2 separate regions of the Homo sapiens genome follow, and region 2 is linked to region 1. The links come from fine-mapping of genetic effects on gene expression. A gene starts in region 1. The other region holds a variant in brackets. All regions are shown on one strand. Distances are between the middles of the regions. Region 1 holds the start of PI3 (peptidase inhibitor 3). Region 2 overlaps LOC105372630 (a long non-coding RNA gene).

Region 1 (8,595 bases):
AAGTGTCTTTTTGGAACCTTTCAATTTTTCTCTCTCAGTGGCTTAATCTTTGCCTGAATTCAGACCAGAGTTAGTTCTTTTGTTTTTGCAAATAGTGAACCTACCGTCTGAATCTTGTTTCTTAAAAAATTCAAGTTTTCTTCATTGTTTTGGAACTTGACATTGATCTTTACCTGAATTAGATATAATGAGGCCTGATTCTGGGTTTTCTTTTGTTTTCTATTGATTTCTCAACCTGACTATTCTTCTAATAAAAACAACATATTGATTATTGTTACTTTGCAAAACTTTTTTTTAAGTCTAGGAGGTTCCAGAGCCCTAGGGTTAATCTTCATTTGTAAACATCTACGCCTATTCACAAGAATTTATGCTTCCCCATAAACTTAAGTATGGTTTCAAGTTCCCTTAACCTCCATAACCACACCATATTAAAAATGGATTTTGGGTATAATACACCTTAGGGATAAATTAAATAAATATTAAATATTGAGTAAATAGTGACATCTTCACCACATAGTCTTCATGTATTGTGATATGTGCATATTCATGTATTGTGAGTATGTGTATATTCAAGCATTTTTATATGCCTCTGAAAAGTTACATAGATTTCTCTTCTAAAGCTCTGCCTCTCTCTTGTTTATTTATAGCAATGGTGTGATTTTGTTGATATTAATAATAGAAAATGCAGCATGTCTAACTGATTGTTGCTAGCATATAATAAAAATATCATTTACTATCACTTACTAACCTTGTGGCTTTTAATGGTTACTTAATCTCTCTTAGCTTCAATCTTTTTACAAAATTAGAAAATAAAATATGTATAATGGCCATCTGAAAGGGACTTATGAAAAATAAGTGACAATACATGTAATCTACTAGGTATAGGAAATAGAGTAAATATTAAAAAACAGAAACCATTATTTCCTCCAATGATGTATTTTGTATTTGTCAAGCCAGAAGTTTGGGTACTGCTGTCACCTGTACTCCAAGACACCCTAGTGTCAAAGCCCTACAGTTGTTCGGACTAGCCTCTGAACAATAGGGAAAAATCATGGCTCAGATGCTCGTGGATGGGGCAAAGTGGTGCAGGGATCCACATTGTCTCACCCCAAGCCTCTGCTCCCCATGTCATCTCAGAGCAAGAACCCAATACACAAAGAAGAGCTGTTTCATATCCCAGAGTGGCAGGATTAGACCTTCCTTTGCAGAATAATTATACCTTACCCCCTCAACTGAAATAGACCTCTGAGGCCTGGAAGGGGGACATACATTTGCCAGAGGTCACCCAATACGTGGGGAGGCAAAGCCAGTGCTGAGATCACCTGACTGTCAAGCCTGTGCTTATTCCCCTTCACCCAGGCTGCTCCCCTCCTGGGGGCTGTGGCCTTCTCTGAGAGTTTCCTTGTGCAATCGCAGTGGGACGAGTGGGTCAACAGGAGAGCCATGAGGTTGCTCATATTCCTGCCCCTTTCTCCACTACTCAAGTCTGCCCTGCCCCCAACATGTATGTCTCCAGAGAATGCTATTCACCCAAACCTCTGACACCATAGTATGAAGGACTTAGTGTATCTTGCCTCCTCATTCACATCTTAAAACAGAAATCTGGAAGAGAATATTGCTTAACCTAAAGGAATGCTACTTCATGGAGGAATCTCAGGCATAAACCAGTGAAATTCTAAAGAGCAGGAGTTTCGCAGCATCTGTAACATCATCCTTTCTATGTGGTGTTGAAAAGATATAGATTCCTGGGAAACATTAATGAGAAGGAAGTGGGGAGCTGTAGTTGCAGCCATAAGGGTTGGCTGGTCACACTGGTAAGGCCGACAGTAGCCAGGTCAGGACTGATGGTGGATTGGAAAAAAAAGACCTGCTTATGGTTTATGTAATGTTTATTTATTTTTTGTGTTTTGTGTTTTTCCTGGTCCTTGGCCAAAGGCAAGATTTCCATATTTCCATTTCCTGGTGAAAAGGAGCTGGCAGCACTGGGGCTGATTATTGGATTTGTAATATGAAGCCCTAGCAATGTGCCTCCTGTTTCCTCCCCCCGCCCTGCTCTCTTTCACCATGGGACCGTTTCCCCTCTTCACTGGAGAGAAGAAGTCCCAATTCTACATCCATTTCCCCAAAGCATCCAGGAGCCCAGAAGTCATAGGAACCAGAAACAAGTGGAGCAGAAGGAACTCTTTATTGGAAAGTGGATGAGAGAGGCAGCTCCAGCCGTGGGCATCCTGAATGGGAGGAAGAATGGACAGTGTGGGAAGGGGAAGGGCAGCAGGGACTTAGGACCAGATGGGGCCTGTAGCTCTGGGGACGGCACAGGTGCAGCAAGGACCGGCTCCCTCTGTGGAAGAGAAGAGTATCAGAGGTGAGAGTCAGCACATCAAAGCACTCAGAGGCAGTGAGGAAGACAGATCATCCTTCTAGGCACTCTGGTTATAGCCTCTCAGACCCCTCAGTCTCCCAGTCTTTCTGTCACCTCCCACAACCTCCCTCCCACCAACCTGGGATGCTTCCCCACCGCTCAGCCTTCTTTTGTGTCTTCAGGGGTCTCCTCGTTCTCCAGCTAGTGCTCACCTCACTGGGGAACGAAACAGGCCATCCCGCAAGAGCCTTCACAGCACTTCTTGATTCCTGGGCAGTCAGTATCTTTCAAGCAGCGGTTAGGGGGATTCAACATGGCGCACCGGATCAAGATAATGGGGCAGGAGCCAGGCTTAGTGGAGACTGGACCTTTGACTGGCTCTTGCGCTTTGACTTTATCTTGACCTTTAACTGAAACTTGTCCTTTAACGGGATCTTGTCCATTGAATGGAACACGGCCTTTGACAGTGTCTTGACCTTTAACAGGAACTGTTAAAAGAAGAAACGAGCCCACATTTATACCCAGTAAGCCTCTGCTTCAGCTGCCATGTCTTTCCTCTGGGTCTGGGTCCATCCACTGCTTACTGCAGCATCCTCAAACCATGGCCTGAGTAGGGAAGGTACACCTCTGGGAGCTACACTCTTGGAAGGCTCTTCCTTTTTTGGGGTGGTCTACTGGACCAGAGTTCCCTTGAGTATTTGTTTCTTCCCCCTTCCTCCACTCCAAGTCTCTCAGGAGCAGTGGTCAGACTGGGGTGACACCCAGCAGTGAAGAGGACACATTGTCATTTGTTAGGAAGTGCATTGGAGTAGGAAAGAACCCTGAGCCACATACTAGGAGACTTGAGCCCCATCCTGGCTCTGGGAATTACCTTGGCAATTGCTCACTCATTTCTACATTTTTGGTTCCCTCCTTATAAAATGGGGGTCCTCAAACAACATGATTCCTGAAGGCTTGTTGTTTCTTAACCTCCTTTTAGAGTACTGATTACTCCAGTGCTTTTATGGGGCAGAGAAACGGGGGACTGTGTCCACACCCAAGGTTTAAAATCCTGGAGTTCATTATTTTATTGCACATTCTGCACAGGTATTGACATCTGAGGCCAAGGCCACATACCAACATTACTTCCACAAACAGTCCTGATATCTCAGTCACTGAGGTGGAAAGCACGTGGAGTCCACCAGCCAAAGTCCTATTTTTTCTGAATATGATGGCAAAGAACAGAAAGCTGAAATCTGGGCTCCAGTGCTGCCTACTGCTTCAGAAGTGCTCCCTGTCCTGGCCCAGGGTGTCCCAGAGGGTCTCCCCTTAGTCCAACCCAGCCCAGCAGGTCACCTGTTCACTCACCTCCCGTGACAGCTGCCTCTAGAACCAGCGTCCCAGCGATGAGGAACACCACCACGATCAAGAAGCTGCTGGCCCTCATGGTGTCAGGAAGGTGTTTGGCTAAGAGCTAAGGCCATACCAATCTTTATGCAGTCCAGCTTGGCCTGGCTCCAGGGGCGGGTCTGTGGTATTTACAAGGGATAATTCCTTAGCTGTATTGGGAAATATCCACCCCATTCTGGGAGGGACCTGGGGGCTTTCCCTCAGGATTATTCACAGGAAGAACTAATGGACATTACATCACATCATCTCTGATTGTCCCAAGAGTTTTCCTACTTTCTCACAGAGTAGAAGTGCTGGCTCACTTATTAGGTAACATTACAATGAAATTCTTCATGTTTTGAAATACAGTGAGACCCAAGAAGAGAAAGGAATCACCGAAGGTTATTCAGCAAGTCACTGGTAGATCCAGTCTTGATTACAAAACCAAGGTGTTTCTCCATTATGCTCTGGTGCTACAAACCCCACCCAGATCTACTTTATCATTTTACCACTCCCAGCATCAAACTGGGCATTTCCTTCCTTCTTCCCTGGTCCTGCAAAAAACTCTGTAAGACAAATTTGCCTTGAATACATAATGACTAATTATTGCACTTTGCTGTTTCAGAGACGGCCTTTCAGATGCATCAAGAAAGTAATTGGAAGGTGGAATTCTAGGTCTGAAGAGGGATGATGCCCTTGAAATCACAGTGGTAGGGAGAAAATAATCAGAAAGTAGTAGAAAACATGTATCATGTATACATTGGACATCTACAGTGTGTGTGTCCAGCATGCCTCCCCACTTCTTTGAACAGCACCCTGTTTCTTGTGAAGAATTGTTGTCTCTTTGAACCATCAACTTGTGAGTCTAATGGGGACTGCTAATCATGAAAGCCTGACCCCTGACCACAGGTAGGGGTGTGTGTGTGTGTGTGTGTGTGTGAGTGTGTGTGTGTGTGTTGTGTGTGAGACTTGGTCTGGTCTATTAACATATTTTATTTGAATGAGTAATGAAAGGGGAAAACGGGGGTTCCTTCTTCTGGAAAAGGTGATATATATGAACCAGGGAATTCCAGAAGTGGTTATCTAAGTCTGGGGGTGGAGATCAATTGTCTGAGAAAAACGACTCTAATACACTGAGACAAGGAGAGAAGTGATGGTGAGAGAAGATTCAGATGACACAGCCAGGTTTCCCTCCTTTACCTTGAGAGCAGTTCTTCACACACCCTTCTCATGGTTGGGTTATGAGGCAATAAATTAGCCCTCTGCTTCAGCTAGTCTGACTTACTATTCTGTCATTGTTACCAAAAGTTCTGAGTAATAGAAATGAATATCCTGAAGTTGGGTATTGTCAGGGACAGAATCTGAGTTAAGAAAGTCACTGAGTTGAGGTGGAGTTAAGGCAGGGAAGGTAACAAACTAATTATTGGACACTAATTCAGCTGGTGAAATCCCCACCCCTTGTCGATTTAGACTCTGACCACATGCCCACCAAGCCTGAAACTGAGGGAGACATAAACGAATGTCAGACTGTGGAAGCCTTTGGCTACCTTACACAAAAGCTCATTGTACAATAAGCCATACAAACAAATAAAAAGCTCACAGAAAATACCTATATTCTTTAAAGAATAGCATTAAAATGAGCTGCCAGGTAAAGGAGGAGAATATTTGCTATATCTATGCTCCATGCCTCTCCTCAGTTGCTTCATTCTCCTTCCTCCCCAGAGATAACTGCTTCCTAAGATTTTATGGTAATTAGCCCTTGCTTTCCTTTATAGTTATGCCACTTCTGTCTGTATTCTGAAATATATATTCAGTTTAGTATACTTTTTCAATTTGTATGTAAATGAAATCTAAGGTATAGTGTTCATATGTCCTGCTTATGTTGCTCAACATTATATTTTTGAGAGTCATCCATTTTGAAGTCTACACCTGTAGTTCATCATTTTCACTGCTGTACAGTATTCTATGAAAAATACCAAAAATGTTATATATTCATTCTACTGTCAATATACATTGGATATTTCTAGGTTTTAGCTATTATAGTGTTGCTATGAATATTCTTGTACATATCTCTTGCAGAACATAGGTATGCATTTATTTTGGATATATGGTTAGGAATGGAATTGCTGGATCACAGAGTACAGATCACAGAGTATAGATACATCCAGCTGTCATAAATACTGCAATCAATTTTCCAACATCATTGTACCAATTCACACTGCTATCAGCAATGTGTGAGCATTCCATTTGCTCCATAATCTCACCAATGCCTCATATGATTTGCCTTTTCATTAGCCATTCAGGTGGACATCTTGTGGGATTTCCTGTGATTTGAATTTACACTTTCCTAATAACTGGTGAAGCTGACCCATTTTTAATACTCCTTTTTTTTTTTTTTTTTTTTTTGAGATGGAATTTCGCTCTTGTCACCCAGGCTGGAGTTCAATGGCACAATCTCAGCTCACTGCAACCTCCACCTCCCAGGTTCAAGTGATTCTCTTGCCTCAGCCTCCCAAGTAGCTGGGATTACAGGCACATGCCACCATGCCCAGCTAATTTTTATATTTTGCAGTTTCACCATGTTGGTCAGGCTTGTCTCGAACCGCTGACCTCAGATGATGCACCTGCCTTGGCCTCCCAAAGTGCTAGGATTACAGACATGAGCCACTGCACCCGGCCCATTTTTAATATTTCTATTATCCATTTGGCTATCCTCTTTTGTGAAGTGCCAATTCAAGTATCTTACCTTTTATTTACTTATTTATTTAATTTCAACTTTTATTTTAGATTTGAATGGGTTGTTTATCTTTTCTTATTGATTTGTAGTAGAAAAGAAACTTTTATGCATTACTAATGAGAGTCTATATTGGTGAAACATTTAAAAACAGTTTGACATCAGCTAGTAAAATTGAATGTGTACACAATCTATAATTCAGCAATTGCACTCCTAAAGATTTAATTAAGGAAAATATTTCCACATGTTTACCAAGAAACATGCACAATAATGTTCATAAAAGTACTGTTTTTAACAATAACATACTGGAAACAGTCCATGTTACCAATACTAAAATACTGGATAAATATGTCATGACATATTAATGCATAAATATGTCATGACATATTAATGCAAGGAAGTATTATACAATTATGAAAATAACTGAATTACAGCCATGCACAATATGACCATAATTAAAATAATGTTGAATAAACAACACAAGTCCACAGTGACAATATTTAGAATTACCCACTTGTCATAAAACTCAAATGAAGGAGAACTGGGAAATATATTGCCTAGGCATATTTACATATGAAGCAAAGCTCAAAAAGGGATACATAAAAAATGAAAAAACTATAAAAATGACATACAAGATAGTGGCTAACTCTGGAAACGAGAGAAGAAAACATTCTGGATGGGTGAGAAGGACACGGGTTGATTTAAGTTGTTGGTTATTAGTAATGTTCTAGTTCTTTGATTGCTTGGAGAGAGAGAGAGAGAGAGAAAGCTGCAGAGCGAATCATTTATAGACTACCTTAGCTTTCAATAAACCCACATTGCTACCCTCGCAAGTTGTTTCCAATATTTTGCCATTACAAACTATACCACATGTGGCCTTTCTTAGCTTGCTTTCTTGTGAACCAGATTCCCAGAAGTATATTTGCTTATACAAAGGTGAAATGCATTTGAAATTTTGATAATATTGCCATATTTCCCTTGATAGGGGTTGTACCATATTGTAATCCCACCAGTAGTGGATAAACTTGCCTGCTGTTTCCATCAAGCCTCATGAACAGACTGTGTGTCTAATTTTGGGGTTTTATTTTTAACTTTTATTTTAGTTTCAGGGGTACATGTGCAGGTTTGTTGTATAGGTAAATTTCATGTCATGGGGGGGTTCGTGTGCAGAAGTATTTCATCACCAGGTAATCAGCATAGTACTCGATTCGTGTTTTGATCCTCACGCTCCTCCCATTCTCTACCCTCAAGTAGGCCCTAGTGTCCATTGTTCCCTTCTTTGTGTCCATATGTACTCAATGTTCAGTTTTCATTTATACGTGAGAAAATGTGGTATTTTCTTTTCTGTTCTTGTGAAAGTTTGCTTAGGATAATGGCCTCCAGCTCCATCCATGTTGCTGCAAAGGACATGATCTTGTTCTTTTTTATGACTCGTAGTATTCTATGGTGTTTACATACCACATTTTCTTTATCCAGTCTATCATTGATGAGCAATTAGGTTGATTCTATGTCTTTGATACTGTGAATAGTTCTGTGATTCACATACTACATGGATGTGTCTTTATGATAGAATGATTTATATTCCTTTGGGTATATAACCATTAATGGAATATCTTGGGTTGAATGGTAATTCTGTTTTAAGTTCTTTGAGAAATTGCCATACTGCTTTCCATGCTGGCTGAACTAATTTACATTCCTACCAGCAGTGTATAAATGTTCCCTTTTCTCTACAACCTTGACAGCATATGTTATGTTATAACGACTGGTGTGAGATGCTATCTCAATTACTGTTTGGATTTTCATTTCTCTAATGATCTGTGATGTTGAGCATTTTTTCATTTGTTTGTTGGCAACATGTATGTTTTCTTTTGAGAAGTTTCTGTTCATGTCCTTTGCCCACTTTCTAATGGGGTTGTCTGTTTTTTGCTTGTTAACTGGTTTAAGTTCCTTATAGATTCTGGATATTAGACCTTTGTTGGACACATAGCTCACAAATATTTTCTTCTATTCTGTAGGTTGTTGGTTTACTGTGCTGATAGTTTCTTTTGCTGTGCGGAAGCTTTTTAGTTTAACTAGGTCCTATTTGTCAAGTTTTGTTTTTGTTGCTATTGCTTTTGGCATCTTCATCATG
Region 2 (8,595 bases), 90 kb before region 1:
ATCAGTCTGTAGATTCTGCCATAGTCTCTTCTCTTCATTTAAAAAATGGTTTGTTAGGATCTCCCAGGTTTGCGGGATCTCTGGGTGGGTTGGGAATGGGCATGAGATGGCTGACGAGTCAAGCCTAGACTAGTATAGTCAGAGTCTCTCTAGAGATTATCTAAGTGTTTTCCCACCCTGTTAGACTCAATATATTTATTTATTTATCTGTTTACTTTTAAGAGACAGAGTCTTACTCTGTTGCCCATGCTGAAGTGCAATGGTGCAGTCATAGCTCCCTGTAACCTTGAACTCCTCGGTTGAAGGGGGTCTCCTGCCTCAGCCTCTCAAGTAGCTAGGACTACAGGTGCATATAATCACACCTGACTTTCCTTTCCTTTCCTTTCCTTTCCTTTCCTTTCCTTTCCTTTCCTTTCCTTTCCTTTCCTTTCCTTTCCTTTCCTTTCCCTTTCTTTCTCTCTTTCTTTCTTTCTTTCTTTCTCTCTTTCTTTCTTTCTTTCTTTCTTTCTTTCTTTCTTTCTTTCTTTCTTTCTTTCTTTCTCTTTCTTTCTTTTTCTCTTTCTTTCTTTCTTTCTTTTTTCTCTTTCTTTCTTTCCCTCCCTCCCTCCCTTCCTTCCTTCTTTCCTTCCATCCTTTCTTTCTTTTTCTTTTTTTCTTTTTGAGATGAGGTCTCATAGGCTGGTTCAAGACCAGCCTATGTTACTCCTAGCCTCAAGTGATTCTCCCGCCTCGGTCTCCCAAAGCATTGGGATTACAGGCATGAGCCACTGTACCTGGCCCATGGTCTAGGACATGGGGGATGATGGGAGGAAAGGAGAGAAGTGAGAGAGGTGGTGGGATTTGTGGCCTTGCTCTCAGCATGTGGAGTGGAAAGAATAGTGGATTTTGAGTGAGACAGATCATATCTTAAATCATAATTGTGTGAGTTATGTCCAAATTGCTCGGGAATTCATCCTTCTGAGCGTCAATTTTACCATGTATGTATGGGGTTAATATTAATTCCTTTTTTGTATGGTGGTGAGGAATAAAGGCATTGTTTGTGAGAGAAGTGCACAGTGACATCGGTCAACAACTAGTAGATATTTATTTTCCTTTAGGATCAGCTCCAGGTTCCTTGTGGCACCAATCCTCACTCCACCTCCTATTGAGAATGTTGCTGTTGTTGGTCAGGTTTAGCACTTTCTTTGGGGCACTATTCAGAAATCACACACACATGAGTGTGATCCTCTTTGATTTCATTTATCAGGAGTTGTAACACAGGTCTGAAATGAATTGCTTCAGTGGTTACCAGGCATGACCAGTTTCCTCTCCTCTCTTTGTCCTTTCTGGTTCCAGGAAGAAATTTGAAACCTGAACAAACCTCTAATCATTAAAGAATTTAAAATGGTAATTAAATTTCTCCTTTTATAAAAGAAAACAAGTTAAGAGGTTTTCACTTGGTAATTAAATCTCTTCTTTTAAAATGGGAAATAATATGAAATGTATTCATTTTTTACCAAACCTACAAGAAAGACAATTTCTATCCCAAATGATTTCAGAGACTAAAAGAAGGGAAAGCACGGATGGAAACTTTTGTGGTGCTTATCTTTGATATTGTGTGTTTATATCATAATCAGAGTTTAAGAAACTAGACTCTTTTTTCTTATGAGAATACATGGGAAAATCCAAAATGTTGGGATTTTTTGTCAGTGTTGAATTTTTTGAAGTTGATAACTGTACTGTGGTTATATAAAGGTGTCCTTATTCATAGCGAATACACACTGAAGTATTCATGGACAGAGGAGCATAATGTATACAACTTATTCTCAATGGTTGGAATAAAACATTCTATTCTCTCACACACACAAAAGAGAAAGAATGATAAAACAAATGTGGCAAAATGTTAATATTTAGTGAATCTGGGTGAAGGGAATATGGTAGTTCTTTGTACTGTTCTTCCCATTTTTTTCCATACATTTGAAATATTTCAAAGTGACAAGTATAATACATGCTAGGACATTTATTATAATAGTAGGGTATCCCTATAATAAATATAATAAATAAATAAATAAACAGATATGCAAAGATAGTTCAAGAACAGAAAATCTATCAAGGGGATTAAGCAAATTAAAAGTTTAAAGATGACCCAAATGAGTCTCTAAATAGTTTCATAAAAATCATTCTATATTGTATTCTACATTCATGTGTAATAAAAATAGAAACACCCTAGACCAGGAACAAAAGTGAACATAACTAATCTGGTAAAAGGTATTTACCAACAGTCGCAGCAAATATACTCAGTGATGACACTTTAGAAATGGCATCCTTAAAGACAGGTACAAGGGCAGAATTTCTCCCATCTCCATTTTCAGTCAATCTCATATTAGTGATCTTAGGCCAATGCAATAAAATTGGACATAAAAATAAAGAGGTATAAGGATTGGAAAGGGAGAGATAAAATTGTGAGTGTTTACAAATGATATGATTGTCTCAGGATGAAATCCAAGAGAATCAATGGGTAAACTATTCACAACAGCCATAAAATTTATGATTACCTGGAAAAATTATATGATGAAAATAAAATTTTATTAAAAGACTTGAAGAGGCCTTGAATAAATAGAGTGAGACTTATTTTTTTATACTTGGGAAGACTTACTATGGTAAATATTTTGGCTCTTCCAGGTAATTTATAGCATGGATGCAATCATAATAAAAATTCAACAGAGTTTTTAAGGACCTTGTCAAATTGACCCTAAAGTTTACATGGTAGAGTAAAAGCACAGGGATAGCCAAAACAATTCTAAACAAGCAAAACAGAAAAGACTTCTACTGCGAAGCACCAGGTTATAAAAAATATAGATGCAAATTAAAGGAGTATGGTATTGGTCTGGGAGTGAACAAATTGAGTAAGAAAACCTAGTAGAGTGCATCCATCCACATATGAAAACTGGTACAAAATTAATACAGTTTTATGATCAAAAGGGGGATCAATGATATAGGGAACAATTGGCATTCCATATTGGAAAAAAAATCAAACAAAGTCTCTACTTAAACCTTTCACAAAAATAAATTCCAGATGGATTAACGACTTAAATGTGGAAAATACAACTTTAAAAATGTGTTTATAAAATTGGAGATTGTCCTATTTTTAATCAAGATGACACCAGAGACAGTTTATGCTAACTGATGCTTCTATCTGGAGCTCACGCACCATCTGTACAGCAGGCACATCAGTTGCATGAACTGAAGAGTTGACCCTCAGTGGTTCTCTCTCCTTACCCCAGCTTTGGGCACAGGGAATCATGGCTGCTCTTCAGGCCTGGGTAAGAAGCATTATTCCTTAGACAGCCCCTATCAAATTCACCCAAAGCATTCCTTCCTCCTGTCACCTTGTATAGGAGGCCGACTCTGAGCCTTATTTTTCCTGTTTGTAAAATTGGATACTGTACTACCTGCTTTATTCATTGTTATAGGTTTAAATGTGAAAAAGCATGCAAAGCCTTTAGCACAGTGTCCAGCATAAAAAAGATGCTCAGTAATTATTAGCCACAAGTATCAGAATTATCAAAGGGAACATATTTATTAAGTGGGAAAGACAGGATTTAAAAGCTGGTCAGTCTGATTCCAAAGTCTGTGATCTTTTAATGAATGTCACTGAGATCAAGCGAAAGGATATAGGATAATTTGGGAGATGTTAGTCCAGGCTGTGGAATTGGGGGTCTGCATCCTCCTTGTTCTAGAGTTTGATAGGTCATTTTTCTTTCTCCTCTTGGCCTCCCCTGTAGGTTCCAGCATTGCTGACAATTGCCTAATTTCCAATACTCATTCTTTCTCCCAACACTTTAAAATTGTAAAACAAAACATGCATTAGGAAAAGCACATAAAATAAGAGTAAGATTTAATGAACAATTACAAAGCAAACACATGTTCAACCGCCACAGAGGCCATGTTCTTTTTTTAATATGTCTTATCAAGGCCCACAACTTCCTTAGTGACAAGTCATGGCTTCTTTTTTGTTGGTCCTTGAGTAAATGGATGTCTCCCTTTGGGGAGATATGCCAGCCCGTGGGGGAAAAATGTGAGAAACATCTTGGTCTTCAATCCGACACTGTCACAAATCATTTCTTGGGAGGGGAGGTTTCGAATGCTCCTGCCACCACTGAATTTTCTTGGCTTCTACTTCTGGTTCAGACATTTGCTGCTGTTGCCCCAGATCCCAGCTCTCCCCATCCATGAGTTCTCTAACTCTTCTTTGTACTGTTTTTTTCTGAGGGCAACCACCTTTCTCAGTCTCTCCAGAATTGCTAAGAAGAATCCAACCTGCACAAATGGCAAAATTCGAGCCAAGGGAATTCAAGCCTTCTGGTAAAAGAAGGAGGTGGACACCCAGCCTCTCCCTTGAAGTGCATTGCTGCTCTTAGACCAACAGGGATGACTGGACATGCTGCCCCTCCCATGTTTTTATTCCTTTCTCAGCTTCTCCTTGCCCTGTCTCCACAAGTGATTTTTTTTCTTTTAAATTTTTATTTTTTTCTTTTATTTTTCTTTAGAGATGGGGTCTCGCTATTTTGCCCAGGCTGGTCTTGAAATACTGGGCTCAAACGATCCTCCCACCTTGGCCTCCCAAAGTGCTAGGATTACAGACACCAGAATAGAGATATAATTGCCTCCATTTTCTATGGGAAAATCTTAAGGCACACTCTAGGTTTGCAAATCATGCTAATTCCTTTCCAGCATGCACCAATTTATAACTTGTATGTCTTATTTTGTAGGGGATGACCTTGGTTAGCTGTCTAATTGAGGAAGACCTTAAACATAAATGCACATAGAGGCATTGCTGATTGATAATTTGATTTATGTTCATGGGAGGAAAAACAACATCAAACAAGAGAGCTATGGTTA[G/A]GTGCTTATTGTTTATTGATGCTAAGTCTCTTTCTATGTCTTTTAAAACAAGCAATGAGGCTGAATTTTCAGAGAATGCAGATACCTAACAATTGGCCTAAGGGTTGTCCTGCCTAATTTGGTAAAAAAGTGGCAGACAACTGTACATTATTTAGATTTACCAGATGAACATATAAAAAAAACCAAGTAGAAATACTGGAAATAAATGATTATTGAAATAAAAATTCATTACTTACTAGATAGAACTAGCATTCGACCCAGCAATCTCATTACTGGATATATACCCAAACGAATAGAAATTGTTCTACCATGAAGACACATGCGTGCATATATTCATTGCAGCAGTATTCAAAATAGCAAAGACATGGAATTAATCTAGATGCCCATCAATGGTGGACTGGATAAAGAAACTGTGATACATAAACACCATGGAATACTATGCAGGCATAAGAAAGAATGAAATAATGTCCTTTGTAGCAACATGGATGGAGCCGGAGGCCATTATCCTAAGTGAATTAAAGCAGCAACAGAAAAACCAAAAACAGAGTATCACATCATCTCACTTATAAGTGTGAGCTAAACACTGAATACACGTGGACACAAAGAAGAGAACAATAGGCATTGGGGCTTACTTGAGAGTGAAGGGTTCGAGGAGGGTTAGGACTGAAAGAGTACCTATTGGGTATTACCTGGGTGACAAAGTTATCTGTACATCAAATATTAACATGCAATTTACCCATGTTAACAAGCTGCACATGTACCCTTGAACCTAAAATAAAAGTTGGAAAAACATTGGATAAAGTAGAGTTTAGACTGGATGCAGCTGAAAGAAAACTTGGTGAATTTTTAGCCAGTACTGAGAAATTCACCCAGAGCCCAGCACAGAGAGATGAAGAGAAAAATATAAGAGAAAGGCAAAACAACGATAATAAAAATAGAAGGTCTAGTAAATATCCGGTGGAAGTTCCAGAAAGAGACTGGAGAGAATGGCACAGAAGTAATATTCAAAGAGATAAAGAAAGGACTTTTTCTTTTAGGATTAAATTAAGACATGCATCTTCAGACTAAAAGTGCATATTTGGAGTAAAGCAGAATAAATAAAAGGCAAACATGACTCGGCGAGATTTCTGACAATAGTTACTAGTTCATGCTTTTATATGAAGCAAATGGACCAGGAGCCAACTAAACATGAAAACCAAGCCTCATAATGGCCACTGATTGTTCATGTCGATCCCCACATCCTGCTGCACCTATATAAAGTGAATTCTTGAAAAGGTGCAGATGCCCTTCCTTCCCCAACAAAAGGGCATCCTCTGCAATACTCCTCCAAGATGTAGCCATGGAAGGTGACAGGCAAAGGAGAGGCTCCCAGACAGCAGAACTGGATTCTTCAGATTTATTGAGTAAGGAAATCACTCCAACATTAGGTAGGAAGTCCTCACATCCCTGTCTTACAGGATGTACAATCCGTATTACGGGCCAGTGACAATTTGTATATATCTTCCTATATTTCCCTTTTGCAAATAGGACTTTTTATTGCAGTCATTCCGCCCTCAATCTACCATTCTATATTGGGTGCATTTGAAGTGGTTAAATTTACTTAAGCTTATTAAACTTAATCTGTGAAGACTATAAATTTAACTGACAGAACTGCTTTCACCCACATTGCAGAACTGGAGATGAATATAGTACCCAGAGAGACATTTTGTTGTCTTTCTTTGGGAGAGAGGTTGAGTGCATTTTATGTAGATGTTGGTTTAGAAAGTATTTGAAAAAATTTAGTTATGTAGATTTCAGTAACCAAAAGGGGTATACTTTAGAGAACACTCACTGCTATTTTTACCACTGAGCATCCTTTCACCCTTCTGCTGGTAGCTATATCCTAATTTACCCCAGGAGAATCATTCCCTCTCCCACTCTGAAAATTCCACTGGATTTGGGGATGAGTACACATGGTGATGAGTATTGTGGCCTTGGCTTAAACCAATCGGTACATCCCAGTTCCCTGGTCCCAATCATTGGTTTAAAGATTTAATTCTAGCCACTCCTAGTTAGTTGAGTTGCCCAGAAAAAGCCCTTACTAGACATGAATTTGGGAAGATGGGAGGAGATGCCACAGCCATATTATAAATGCTAAGAGGGAGCCTGACTAAGAATGAAGCCAACATGAAGAGAAGTGCCGTGGAGAGAATCTTGTGGGAGCTATAGTTTGAGCCCTTGCTCAAATTGCACCTGAAAATAGCACCTATTCTCCTTGGTTTATTCAGCACTCTCACTTCTTGCATCTTTAAGATCATTTTTTAACTTTCCGCCGAAGGATTATCTGGACAGTGCTACTATCCCAGGCATCTCCAACTCTGGGTTTAGGACTAAAGAAGTCTTGGAGGGACCATAATGAAGCAGTATGTGGCTGAATTCTGAAGACTTGGGTTTGAATCTTACTGTACCTCTGACTTGCTGTGTCATCTTGGGCAAGTGGGCTTACTCTCTGAGGTTCCATTTCCTTTTCTTTAAAATGGGATATAAAAGTGCTTGGTCCACTGTGAAGTTCGGGGTCATGCATGGTGTCTATTCCTAGGCTTTTTATTCAGGAAAGTTGGCTCTCTGGGTCCTGAGAGTCCTCTATAAGGCAAAAACCCAGCTAGAATCTAAGACTTGGGGCCTCTAAAGAGCATCTGTTCCAATGCACTGATCTTACAAATAGGGAAACTGAGGCCCAGAGAAAGGAAGGTTCTACATCAAATTGGACAGAGCTGGGATTCCAGCCCAGTGTCCTGAGTCCAGTATCATCGTCATGCCTCTCTAGCTGACCACAGGGTCCCAGAGGCCAGAAGTGATGCTATCAAGTGTGAGTCTTTCATGGTCTTTCTGGCACTCTGCTCTGTTTGGGCCACAGAGGTGTCCTCATAGTGGTGCTCTCCACTGACCCCAGGCTTAGACACCAAACTCTCCCATAGTAATGATCAACCAGGCATCGTCTGCCATGTCCATCTAAGACCCTACCATCTCCTGATCTGCAACAGGAACGTTTCTCTGAGACTCACTTTTTCTCATCTGTAAACTGACTTGACATTAGTATCTACCAAGTTTTGTGTGACGCTTAAATGTAACAAAACATGCTAAACCAAAGGAGATGGATTCTAGTGATTTGGGGACATCTTTTCCCAAGCTGCTTATAGCTCTGTTCCACAGTTTAATAATCCAGTTTTTCTATTCCCGGTTTTCTTCCATGGGTAGTCATGATGGCAGTTTCTTAATGCCGAGCACTGTTTTTCTTTTTGTTTTACCAGGTCCCTAAAGCATTTCCTCATGACATACCACAGACTTTGTTTCTTTAACCTTAGGTTAACTGGATCCCTTCCTCTAGGGAGACAGACATGCAGTTTTTGAAGGAATAAAGTGCAGAGCCCTGATCTGTACACCAACCATCTCTTGCATGGTAATAAGTATGAAGACACCTGAGATCCACCGTTGTTGGTTAATTTCTCCTGCCAATTCTTTGATGGTGGATGTTTTTCACCCTTGCCCAGATTCTGCTTTACTGCCCTTCACCCATTCACTTGTGGGCCTAAAAGGACAGTTCATATTTCCAGATTTTATTAGGACTATGATGAGCAGTAGGGGAGGAAGTACAAACATTGCAGAATTCAAACTTTCTTGGGTGGGAAAATGATAAGGAGTGGCTAAGCCATCTGTTTCTCTGGAAGGTCTAGG

Evidence for each region. PIP is the estimated chance that this variant, and not a neighbour inherited with it, causes the effect. A credible set is the group of variants that fine-mapping cannot tell apart.
Region 2: its variant is the best candidate, but not a certain one, in a credible set for the expression of PI3 in whole blood (TOPMed, PIP 0.54).

The regions. Positions count from the first base shown.
Region 1 is chr20:45,170,116-45,178,710 of GRCh38, reverse strand. It overlaps PI3 (peptidase inhibitor 3), which reads right to left and starts at 3,809. Exons shown (of 3, transcript NM_002638.4): 1 at 3,710-3,809; 2 at 2,575-2,850; 3 at 2,167-2,341. The coding sequence starts at 3,788. The coding sequence ends at 2,576. RefSeq lists an enhancer at 3,020-4,219.
Region 2 is chr20:45,259,876-45,268,470 of GRCh38, reverse strand. All of the region lies in intron 2 of LOC105372630 (a long non-coding RNA gene), which reads right to left. Among named protein-coding and RNA genes, the nearest start is that of SLPI, 9.6 kb to the right of the region's middle. The variant G/A (reference allele first, on the strand shown) is at 4,882.